Linked DNA regions of Homo sapiens: regions 1 and 2 are each linked to region 3. The links come from fine-mapping of genetic effects on gene expression. A gene starts in region 3. Each other region holds a variant in brackets. All regions are shown on one strand. Distances are from middle to middle. Region 1 overlaps GNB4 (G protein subunit beta 4). Region 2 overlaps GNB4 (G protein subunit beta 4). Region 3 holds the start of MFN1 (mitofusin 1).

Evidence for each region. PIP is the estimated chance that this variant, and not a neighbour inherited with it, causes the effect.
Region 1: its variant is the best candidate, but not a certain one, in a credible set for the expression of MFN1 in whole blood (INTERVAL, PIP 0.50).
Region 2: its variant is the best candidate, but not a certain one, in a credible set for the expression of MFN1 in subcutaneous fat (GTEx, PIP 0.65).

The regions. Positions count from the first base shown.
Region 1 is chr3:179,407,422-179,411,664 of GRCh38, reverse strand. The region is part of intron 8 of GNB4 (G protein subunit beta 4); the gene reads left to right. Among named protein-coding and RNA genes, the nearest start is that of GNB4, 42 kb to the left of the region's middle. The variant A/G (reference allele first, on the strand shown) is at 2,413.
Region 2 is chr3:179,424,393-179,428,635 of GRCh38, reverse strand. It overlaps GNB4 (G protein subunit beta 4), which reads left to right. Exons shown (of 10, transcript NM_021629.4): 2 at 2,394-2,492. The coding sequence starts at 2,436. Among named protein-coding and RNA genes, the nearest start is that of GNB4, 25 kb to the left of the region's middle. The variant G/A (reference allele first, on the strand shown) is at 1,685.
Region 3 is chr3:179,345,384-179,349,626 of GRCh38, reverse strand. It overlaps MFN1 (mitofusin 1), which reads right to left and starts at 1,918. Exons shown (of 18, transcript NM_033540.3): 1 at 1,817-1,918; 2 at 664-782. The coding sequence starts at 775. RefSeq lists enhancers at 1,127-1,346, 1,680-2,209 and a silencer at 1,467-1,626.

The sequences.
Region 1 (4,243 bases), 62 kb before region 3:
TTAACCCTCTCTATCTCTCAGCCCATTACTTTTATCAAGTTGAGATGTTCTCTCATAATTTGCTAAAGTCTTTATGAGGAATGAGTGTTGAATTTTTGTCAAATACTTTTTGTCCGTCTGTTGAGATGTTCGTGTGGTTTTTTTTCAGCCACTTAAAATGGTGTGTTTACATTGATTTTCTCCTGTTTTTTTTTTTTTGTCAAAACATTAGTACCATCTTTTACAAATATAAGTAAATATAGAGGCTTCCTTTTGGAATAAAATGATTCAAACAAAGATACTGTATATATAACAGTTTTCCTTTTTTCAGATGAAATTATGACCAACTTCATTATATTTTTATAATATTTTGAAATTCAGTGATGATTTTAACAGTGACATTTCTCACACTGTTTAGAATGTTAGGCTTAGAAATGAAACTATAATAGTTTCATTTGTGGCTGAGCCCCATATATTCACTGAGTGAGTTGCTGAAATTTTCCATTTGGCTCTATATTTGTGGGGCCTCTAGGTGTCTCTCAGCAGTAAAGACACTTAATAATTGTAAACTGTGATTATTAATTTCATTAACTCAGTGCCAGATTCAGTTATTTCTATCATAGATCAAGGCTTTTTTCCTCCCCAGCCCCTACTTTATTAAGGTATAATTGACAAATTGTATATATTTACAGTGTATAATGTGATGTCGTATTAGATATGGGGCTATTTAGGTTATCCATTTCTTTTTGAGTGAACTTTCAAAGATTTTATCTATATCATCTACATTGTCATATTTATTGGCTTACAGCTATTTATTATACTCTCAATTTTTTTGATATCTATAGAGTTTACAGGATATCCTGCTCTCATTTATGATGTTGGTAATTTCTGTTTTACTTTTTTCCTGATAGTCTGGGACTGTGGGTTGAATTGTGCCCATCTAAAATTTATATGTTGAAGTCTTAAAGCCCAGGACCTCAGACCGTGACCTTATTTGAAAATAAGGTTGGTCCAGATATAATTGGTTAAAATGAGGTCATAATGGATTGGGTGACACTAATCCAGCGTGGCTATTGTCCTTATAAAAGGGGGAAGTTTGGAGACAGGCAAGCATAGAGGGAAGATGATGTGAAGAGACACAGGAGAAGACAGTCATCTACAGGACAGTGAGAAGATTACACATCTTTCTGTCACAGTCCTCAGATATCTTGGTTTCAAGTTTCTAGCCTCCAGAACTGTGAGACAATACATTCCTTTTGTTTAAGCCACCCAGCTTGTGGTGCTTTGTTATGGCAGCCTTAGCAATGAACATATCTATCTATCTATCTATCAATCAATAAATAAATCAACTATCTCCTCAGAGAACCAGCTTTTGTTCTGAGTGATACTCTGTTGTTTTTCTGTTTCATTGATCTTTCACTCTCATCTTTATTATTTCTTTTCTACTGCTTACTTGGTGTATTAGTTCGTTCTCACACTGCTATGAAGAAATACCTGATACTGGGTAATTTATAAAGAGAAGAGGTTTAATAGACTCACAGTTCTGCATGGCTGGGGAGGCCTCAGGAAACTTACAATCATGGTGGAAGGCACCTCTCCATAGGGCAGCAGGAGAGAGAATGAGTGCCGAGCGAAGGGGGAAGCCCCTTATAAACCATCAGATCTCGTGAGAACTCACTGTCACAAGAACAGCCTGCAGGGAGACCACTCCCATGATTCAGTTACCTTCCACCGGCTCCCTCACAACACGTGGGGATTTGGGGATTACAATGCAAGATGAGATTTGGGTGGGGAAACAAAGCCAAACTGATCACTCGGATTCACTGGCTTTTCTTTTTCTAGTTTTTTTTTTGTTTTGTTTTTTTGTTTTTTTTTTTGAGACAGAGTCTTGCTCTGTTGCGAGGCTGGAGTGTAGTGGTGCGATCTCGGCTCACTGCAACCTCTGCCTCCCAGTTTCAAGCAATTCTCCTGCCTCAGCCTTCGAAGTAACTGAGACTACAGGCGCACACCACCACGCCCAGCTAATTTTTGAATTTTTAGTAGAGAAGGGGTTTCACCATGTTGGCCAGGATGGTCTCGATCTCTTGACCTCGTGATCTGCCTGCCTCGGCCTCCCAAAGTGCTGGGATTACAGGCGTGAGTCACAGCCCCTGGCCTTTTTTTTTTTGTTTTTGAGATGGAGTTTCTCCCTTGTTGCCCAGGCTGGAGTGCAATGGCGTGATGTTGGCTCACCACAATCTCTGCCTCCCAGGTTCAAGTGATTCTCCTGCCTCAGCCTCCCGAGTACCTGGGATTACAGGCATGAGCCAACACACCCGGCTGATTTTTTTGTATTTTTAGTGGAGACGAGGTTTCTCCATGTGGTCAGGCTGGTCTCGAACTCCCGACCTCAGGTGATCCACCCACCTCGGCCTCCCAAAGTGCTGGGATTAC[A/G]GGCATGAGCCACTGTGCACAGCCTTTTTTCTAGTTTTTTTAAGATAGAAGCTGATGTCATTGATTTGGAACTTTTTAAAATTTCTAATACTGGAACTTAAAGCCATAATTTTTTTTTTTTTTTTTTACTGGGTTTCACTGTCACCCAGGCTGGAGTGCAGTGGTGCAGTCATGGCTCACTGCAGCCTCGACTTCCCTGGGCCCAAGTAGCTGGGTATACAGGTGCGTGCCACCATGCCTGGCTATTTTGTGTGCGTGTGTGTATTTTTTGCAGAGATAGGGTCTTGCCATGTTGCCCAGGCTGGTCTCGAACTCCTGGGCTGAAGTGATCTTTTGTCTTAGCCTCCCAGAGTGCTCGGATTTCAGGAGTGAGCCACCATGCCTGGCCCTTCTTCATGTTTCTTGTGTTTGGATCTATGAGTTTCTTTTTTTTTTTGAGTTTCTTTCTTTTTCTTTTTTTTGATACTGACTCTCGCTCTGTCACCCAGGCTGGAGTGCAGTTGCATGATCTCGGCTCACTGCAACCTCCACCTCCCGGGTTCAAGCAATTCTCTTGCCTCAGCCTCCTGAGTAGCTGGGACTACAGGTGCACACTACCATGCCCGGCTAATTGTTTGTATTTTTAGTAGAGGCGGGGTTTTATTACATTGGCCAGGCTGGTCTTGAACTCCTGACCTCAGGTGATCTGTCTGCCTCGGCCTCCCAAAATGCTGGGATTAAAGGCGTGAGCCACCGCACCGAGCCCCTAATCAGATTTTTTTTTCTGTCTCCTCTCTTCCTTCCTTTGGAGACTTTAAGTTACATAGACATTAAACCACTTGAAGTTTTCCCAGAGCTCACTCATGTTCTGTTCATCTTATTGTTCAGGATATTTTTCTTTCTGTATTTTACTTTGGATGGGTCCTATTGCTTTGCCTTCATATGTCTTTTCTGTTGTATCTAATCGGCCGTGAACCCATCCAGTGCACTTTTCATCCCAGACGTTGTTGTCCTTGTCTGTTAATTTTATCTTCTGTGACTTTTTCTGTTTTTTTCAACTGATTAATTTTTCTCCTAATTATAGGTCATATTTTCTTGCTTTTTTGCATGTCTGGTGAATTTTTATTAGATACCAGACATTGTGAATTTTACCTTGTTGGATGCTAGATAATTTTATATTCATAAAAATATTATTTAGATTTGCTCTGGGGCATAGCTAAAATCAGACTGGCCAAGTTAAGTTACTTGGAAACTATTTGATCATTATAGGGTTTGCATGTAAGTTTTGTTAGATGGGACCAGAGTCACACCGTGTGTGCTTAATTTTGCCCCACTGGTGAGGCAAAAGACTTAAAACCCCTCTTCTCAAGAAATTACGAGGTTTTTCCGGTGTATAATGAGGTTATTATGAGGTTTTCCCTCTGTCTGGAGGGGATAGGCATTATTTTTGTCCTATGTACACACCAGGGTTTGTTTCCTGTAATCTTTTTGGGTGTCTTTTGCAGCTTGATTAGTTTTCTCACACGGCTCTGCTGATCGGTACTCAGTTGACTACCTAAAGGATGTCCTCAGCATGCCTCTGGAGTTTTCTCTTTGCCAAGCATTGTCCTCTCTGACACTCTCTGTGAACTCTAGCTGCTGTGGACTTCTTGGATTCCCAGTGCTTTCTCCTCAACTCAGGGAGGCCAGTGGGCTCCAGCTGCGTTTCTCTTCCCTTCACCATGACCTTTATAAACTTTCATAGTAAGATGGTAGTAAGGTAGTAAGATGGAGCAGCTGTAGGAATGATCTTATTTATTTATTTACTTACTTATTTTGAGACAGTCTCATTCTGTCACCCAGGCTGGAGTGC
Region 2 (4,243 bases), 79 kb before region 3:
AGGGTCCCTCGATAGTTCTTTCTAGTGTTTTAGTTAGTAGGAGGGATGTAAACTAGTTGTGCTTACCCAAAATGTTTTGGGACCCTAAAAATAAAGAGGTATCAAAATAATGAGAGTTTCTAGGACTGTGGGGCCAGGGATATCTCAGGAATGGTCAGCAAGGGCAGCTAAGGTTGCGGCTTTAAAGAGCCCGCATGCTGCTTGTCTTCACTTCAGCGGAATGGGATTCCAGACCGGCTGTAATCTGTCCAGTCTGGCCCTCTCTGAGATGCATACTAAATTGTTAAACAATCAAACTTTATCAGGGAATGGTTAAGACTCATAAATAAAGATGGAAAATTTGGATAAACAGAGAAATATGCCACAATATTAAATTGGAAATGGAATATTAGAATGATTTTAGTTCTTCTGGAACTGTTTTATATACCTTAATGCCATTCCAGTCAATCCCAATACATTTATTTTTTAATTGGACAAAATAAATACAAAGTGAATTCTGAAAGAATAAATAGATACTGGTTTTTCTTTTCTTTTTGTCTGAACATAATAAACAGATATTTGTACCATAGTTGATGCGATTGTAGCATAGACATCAAAACCAAATTCTCTCTCATGAGGGGAATCAATCTTTTATAGGAATTTGGACTTAGGACAGTCATTTCGGGCTACAATCTTGACCTAAAAAGTTATAGGCTTGGGTTTTGTACTTAGGGGAGCAGAAAAAGTCATTCTGTAGAAAGAAAAAAACCAAGGAAGATAAGAAGAGAAAAGAGACCAGGACAGGTAGAGAAAGAATACTCCCAGTTTCTAGCCTCTAGTGTCTTTTTGAGGTAGTAATATTCCTGTCTTTTGGTTCTGTGATTCATCCTAAATCCTTAGAATGAATATTCCTTTATTTGTTAAGCTATTTCAGGTTGCTTTATTTACTGGAGACCAAAGTATCTTAAGTGATGGGGATACAACAAAGAATAAAGCAAACAGAGACCCTACCTGAAGGAACTTTACATCTTTTTTTTTTTTTTTTTTTTTTAAAGCCAGAGTCTCACTCTGTCACCCAGGCTGGAGTGCAGTGGTGTGACCTCGGCTCACTGCAGCCTCCTCCTCCCAGATTCAAGCAATTCTTTTGCCTCAGCTTCCCAAATAGCTGGGATTGCAGTCATGTGCCACCACACCCAGCTAATTTTTGTAATTTTGGTAGAGATGAGGTTTCGCCATGTTGCCCAGGCTGGTCTTGAACTCCTGGCCTCAAGCGATGCACCCACCTCAGCCTCCCAAAGTGATGGGATTACAGGCGTGAGCCACCACACCAGACCCTTTACATCTTATCAGAAGGAAAGAGATCACAAGTAAGTAAATACATGCTGATGGTGTTGAGTCTCATAGTGAAAAACAAGACAGGGTAAGAGGAGCATGTTTGGGTGCACATGTGCTATCAGCAAAGGTCCCACTGAGAAGATCACATTTGGGCAGATTTAGTAAGGGAGCAAGGGATTATAAAATCAGAGACAGGAGCTATCCAAGCAGAGGCAGGAGCAAATGCAAAGACACTGAGACTGGGGCCTGCTTAGCATGTTCAGGGAACATCAGAGAAGTCTTTGAACAACTGGAACAGAGTGAGTGTGAGAGTGATACATGAGGTCAGAGGGGGGTGTGTGTGTGTAATGATACAGGGTCTGTGGGTCAA[G/A]ATAGAGTTTAGTGGAGTGGAAAACCATTGGAGGATTTAAAGTGACTTGTATTTTAAATGGATCTCTAGTTGCTCTAATTAGACCAGAGAGTGGTCGAGGGCAGCAGAAAGGAGACCAGGTGAGAGATGGTCATGGTGATGTGGACCCAGACAGTAGAAGTGGAGGAAATCAGAATTAGAACCTGGATAATTTCTTAAGGAATAACTGACATGATTTGCAAATGGATTCGATGGGGAGGCTATGATTAAAACAGGACTGCTCCCACATTTTTAGCTTAAACAATTGTAAGTAAGGATGGTCTTGCCGTTTCCTGAGATGGGGAAGGCTTGGGGGTGGGGTGGGGTTCAGTTTTGAGGTACTGTGTTAGGTGCCAATCCAGACATCCAAGTGGGGAAGTCTCTTGGTGTCCTCTGAACTGTTGTAAAATATTTCTCACCAGACTCCATTCTGGTACTAATTCCCCATAATTCAGCCTTGAATACTACAACTTGGAATTTCTCCTCCATCCTCTGATCATGTTCTTGTATACAACCCTTCAGTAAATAACCTCATTCTATATTTACTAAGCATCTTTAAATTCCTTTAATAATTGACTACCTCCATTGAATTTCAGTAGGTCCAAAAAGAAGTTATATGTCAGTATTGTAAAACCAGATTAAGATGTAAGTAGAGAACTGAATCTTTCTCTTGCTCTCTGTTTTTTAACAGCTGTTTTCACTCATTAGCTCCTGAGGTAAACAAATTGAAAAAATGAGCGAACTGGAACAGTTGAGGCAAGAAGCAGAACAACTGCGGAATCAGATTCAGGTAAAACCTTTTCATTTCAAAATGTTAGCACTTATTTAGTACCAGGAATCTACAAAATTTGCCTATTAGTTTATCAGTCTATATTAAATGATTTCTAAGGCTAGAAATGGTCTTTTTTTCTCTCACATGGCGAAGTAAGAACTGAGGTCTATTTGTGTTTACCATGTCTCGAAAGAACTCTTCAAAATTCATTGCGAACAAGTACCTATGTAGAAGAATGGCCTCTATGAAAGACAGACATAATTCTCTTTTTATTTACATGCCTAGAATCATAGATTTTTGGTACAAAACCATAATGTAGATAGTGTCACAATATAATGTCACACTAGGGAAATATTAATCTATACATTAATTAGGTTGCAGAAAATCATTAGGGTGGGCACAGTGGCTCATGCCTGTAATCCCAGCACTTTGGGAGGCTGAGGCAGGTGGATCACCTGAGGTCAGGAGTTCAAGACCAGCCTGGCCAACATGGTGAAACTCTGTCTCTACTAAAAATAGAAAAATTAGCCAGGCGTGGTGGTGCACACCTGTAATCCCAGCTACTTGGGAGGCTGAGGCAGGAGAATGGCTTGATCCCTGGAGACGGAGGTTGCAACGAGCTGAACTCACGCCACTGCACTCCAGCCTGGGTGACAGAGCGAGACTCTGTCTCAGAAAAACAAAACAAAACTATCAGTGGCAGAATCAAAACATGTCTGACACCTTTTACTCTTGGAATCAACTCAAAACAGTAAGGATAAGAAACAACTACAAACTCCATCTTTAACAAAATTAACAGACACTAGAACTTCAAAGCGTAATGGATGGAGAGGAGTTGCCAAATGCAGTGAAGCAGCAGCACGTGGGGAGGCTCTGAGAGGAGGCGTCTGCGTGGGGAGCACTCTCTAAGAGACAGCACCACGGTCCCTTCTTTGGAACAATGGGAACAGATGCTTCCTTGGACTTCATTAGCACTGAGAAATATCAAGGAAGGCAGAGCTAAAAATGAAAGGATATAGACATGCCATCTTGTAGGAAGCCTGGCGGTAAGCAGGGTGGAGGAAAGAGGCTTTGAGTTGTGAGTAGCCTGGCAGCTGCCTACTTCTTTTCCCAGAGAAAAGTAAAGGCTAAAGCAACGTACAAGGGTAAGCAGGGAGAATCTCATAACTTGGAACACAGCTGCTGCTTTTCCCAGTTTGAACCTCTCACAATAGCTGTTTCTGAAGAATTTGTCTAATTTAAAAGTGAAGAGTAGGCTGGGGGCAGTGGCTCACGCCTGTAATCCCAGCATTTTGGAAGGCTGAGGCGGGAGGATTGCTTGAGACAGGAATTCAAGACCAGCCTGGGCAACATAGGGAGATCCGTCTCTACAAAAACAAACAAAAAAACGTTAGCCGGGTGTGGTGGCTTGTGCCTGTAGTCCCAGCTACTCGGGAGGCTGAGGTGGGAGGATTGCTTGAGTCCAGGAGTTCGAGGCTGCAGTGAACCATGATCACACCACTGCATTCTAACTGGACAAAAGAGCAAGACCCTGTCTCCAAAAATAAAATCTCTACAAAGATGATACAAGAAAAGAGAAGAAAAGATTAGTAAAAACAGGGATGGATGAAGAACATTCACCAGAAAAGTGTTGATTCTGAGTGAAGTCATAACCAGACAGACTTATTGCCAGGAATTCAAGGAAGGTAACTATTTAGATGTGAATAAGAATTATGAGTTGAAATCTTAGGTATCTCAACAAAGCTTTCAGAACAAAGGAGAGATGTATT
Region 3 (4,243 bases):
TGAGGCAGAAGAATCGCTTGAACCCAGGAAGTGGAGGCTGCAGTGAGCCAAGAACATGCCACTGCACTCCAGCCTGGGCAACAAGACAAGACTCTGTCTCAAAAAAAAAAAAAAGAAGTATTCCCTAGTAAGACATGACATTCCTCATCACCTTTAACAGTTATGAAACTCCTTTTTCCCCCTTTCCACTGCAATTCAGCCTCATTTGAGAGAATGAGATATGTCTGAGGTCTTGGCTTAACTGCTAAATTGGGGAGGAGACAAGTATAATGGTTAAATGTGGACTGCCTGATTTTTTGTCTGGGCACTTATTAGCTGTGTGATCTTGGGCAAACTGTTTAACTTTTCTTTGACTTCGTCTCTTCATCTTTAAAATGACAGATGGTGGTGATGAAAATTAAATGAACTATTAACATAGCTATTTCTCATCACCTAGTGGTGATGAAAATTAAATGAGCTATTAATATACTAAAGTTCTTAGTTGTTATTAATACCATTTAATTTTCCCCTTCTGGAGGTTAGAAAGGGGTTTTATTCATTATGGTACTTCTCATAGTATACAGTATAATGCCCTATACATGTGTTCAATAACTAACGTTGAAAGAATAAGCACTTTTATATATTTTCAACAGTAATTACTTTAAAAACTTAAGAAGAACTAACCTTCAACAAAATGTGATCCTTCAGTAACAAACTCCAGTAACTGGTCAAAGATTGCAGTAATCGCCTTCTTAGCCAGCACAAAGTGCTTCAGTGGAGAAACAGGTTCTGCCATTATGCTACTAGAGGGAGATAAAGTTAGAAAAGCACCAACTAAAGTGGATGATAGACATGCAAACTGATGACACACCAGTGACATTCATCAACTCCCCAATGAAATAAATTATGCTGGCAAAATGTTTTTAGGTAATTCTTTTTTGGGAGTGTTCTAGTCAGACAGTTAGAGACGACTTTTGAATGATATTTCACTAAAATAAGTGAAATCTATTAGCCAAAATCTTGGTTGCAATTTCTACTCAATTTCCCTTTGGTGAAGACGAAACTAATTGTGACTAAGTTTGTCACTGCATGTGACTCTAAAGTACATCAGGGAACAGGGTTAGTGAGGCGAAGCCAAATTCACACACAATAAGGAAGTTACTAAGTTTCTCAACCTGAAGCTCTAGGTGAGTAGGAGTGGATATGCAGAGTGAGGAAATAAAATTCTAAGATCACAATGTGAGGCTGACATTTAGAAAGGTAAGGCTTCAAGAGGGCATTAACGCTTCCAGCCAAAGTACCAGAAACTTCAAGGACTATAAGTTTAAGAAAGCATAGGTGGTTTCTCAAGAAAAAGACACCAAAGACAAACAATCACGGTCTAATCCTGGTGTGTACATGGAAAGGAACAGTGGCCATAAAGAAGGCGGATTCTTCCAGAGAGTCAAGAAATGACCGCGCGAAGGAGCTGCGTGGGAAAAGCCGGGTGGGGGTAACGCCCCGGTCCGGCCGGTGTGAACACCTGCCTTAGAAAAGGCCTCCCACCTTCCCACACCGGGCGCAGGAGTCAGGGCCAGAGCCCACCCCCGCCCCGCGCACGACCGTCTAGGTCCGGATCCCCCAATCCCACCCCCGAGCACGGCCTCGTGGGCTCCGTGGGCTCGACTCGGCCGCCAGCCCCGTTCGCCCGACAGCTGGCTCTCTCCTTTCCCACAGGACCGCGGCGGGCGGCGCCTCGTCACACAACGCTGCATGCACGACTCCCGCCCCCGGTCCCCAGTCGCTCGAAGGTCACTCCGAGCGTCGCAAACGTGCTGTCGAGGCAGCCGGCACTCACAGTCTCCGCTCCAACTATCACCCGGCAACAGCAACTCGGCCACAGATGCCAAACTGCCTCATCTTCCCGAGAAGTTAAAGGCGGAGAGGAGGCAGGGGGAGTGGCAAAGGGCGGTCACTTCCGGCCTCTTGCCTCCTCTGTTCTGTTTGGCTCCGTGGCCGGAAGCGCATCTATGCCAGGCGCCATTTTCCTTAAGGGCAGAAGGCAAGGTTTGTTGTGGGCAGAGACTGCTACCAGGAGAGTGGTTTTCCGTTCCCCCTTCCAACTTCTTCCCCTCCCTTCTCCCCTCAAAGTGTCCAAGTATCTGCCCAGCCTAGGCTTAGCTAGCTTCCAATGATGGTGGTGGCTGACGCCTATAATCCCAGCACTTTGGGAGACCGAAGGGGTGGGATATCTCTTAAGCCCAGGAGTTCGAGACTAGGCTGGGCAACATAGGGAGGCGCCCCCCCCCCCGCCCCCGACCCTCTTCCTCCTCCCCGTCTCTACAAAATTAAAAAATGAAAAATTAAAAAAATTTTAAAAACTTAGCGAGGCGTGGTGGCACACACCTGTGGTCCCAGCTACTTCGGAGACTGAGGCGGGGGGATTGTTTGGGCCCGGGGCTGCAGCGAACTGTGATTTATCGTGCCACTGCACTCCAGCCTGGGCAAGAGAGCGAGACATTTTTTCAAATAAATAAATAAATAAATAAAAGAAAAGAAATCCAGATCGTATTACTTTCCGAACTTAAAAAGCTTTCCAGGCCGGGCGGGGTGGCTCACGCCTGTAATCCCAGCACTTTGGGAGGCCGAGGCGGGCGGATCACAAGGTCAGGAGATCGGGAGCATCCTGGCTAACACGGTGAACGCCCGTCTCTACTAAAAATACAAGAAGTAGCCGGGCGTGGTGGTGGCGGGCGCCTGTAGTTCCAGCTACTCAGGAGCCTGAGGCAGAGAATTGCTTGAACCCGGGAGGCGGAGGTTACAGTGAGCCGAGATCGCGCCACTGCACTCCAGCCTGGGCGACAGAGCCAGACTCCATCTCAAAAAAAAAAAAAAAAAAAAAAAAAAAAAAAAAAAAGCTTTCCAACAGCTTGCCATTATACTTAAAATTAAAGCTTCGGATGGTAACCGCCCAAGGAAAGCCTTCACCTTGCCCGCTGACTAGCCAGAACTGATACAAGACAGGGGGATTGCAAATAAAGACTTAGTCACGCAAAGCCGGCTGTATGGGAGACTGGAGTTTTATTATTACTGAAATCAGTCTCCCCGAGCAGCACTGGGGAGCAGAATTTTTAAGGACAATTTGGTGGGTTGGGGGAGGCCACTGAGCCAGGAGTGCTGATTGGTCAGGGATGAAATCGCAGGGAGTGGAAGCTGTCTTTCTGCACGAGTCAGTTCCTGGGTTGGGGGACACTAGGTCAGATGAGCCAGTTTATCGGTCTGGGTCGTGCCAGCTAATCCATCAGTTCTGAGCATAGGTAGTCTCAAAGGGAACATTTACTCTGTTTGAATTTTAAAAATCATGATGGTATCCTTTTATTAGTTCTGTACTTAATAATTATATTTAATATAATTACTGCATTTTAAAGCAAGAGTGACATATTACAGGCTATAAATTATAGCACGGTAATTAAATGTTTAATATAGTAAGTAATAAGAAATTTAATCCATTGCTTTTGTGTGTGTGTGGAACACACATATTACCAAAAAGCCAGGAGAGTAAACACAAAGAAGGAAAAGAATTAAAATATAAACGCTAAAACCAACATAGATATTAACAAAAACTAACGTTATTTGAAAGAAATTATCAATTTGATGTATCACTGCCAAATCTGTTCAAGAACATAAAAAATGAAAGGACACAAATTAAGGGGAGAATAACTATAGATATATATATAAATGCCAACAAATTGAAAAGCTTAGATGAAGTATAAAATCTGGGAAAACATCAAATACCAAAATTAGACCGAGAAAAAATAGAAAACTCGAATAGGCTAAGTTTCCCACATATTCAAAACTAGCCAGGTCTAGATGATTTTCGGGGTAACTTTCTATTACATGTTTAACGAAAAGATTAATCTTGCCGGGTGCGATGGCTCACGCCTGTAATCCCAGCAGTTTGGATCATGAGGCGTGTGGATCATGAGGTCAGGAGTTCGAGACCAGCCTGTCCAATATGGTGAAACCTTGTCTCTAATAAAAAACACAAAAATTAGCCAGGCGTGGTGGCAGGTGCCTGTAGTCTCAGCTACTCCAGAGGGAGAGGCAGGAGAATCACTTGAATCCGGGAGGCGGAGGTTTCAGTGAGCCAACATCACGCTACTGCACTCCAGCCTGGGCGAAAGAGCAAGACTCAGTCTCCAGAAAAAAAAAAAAAAAAAATTCACACTTATGGACTACAGAGGCAAACATAGGAAATATTAGCTACCTGAGGCCAACGTTGTAT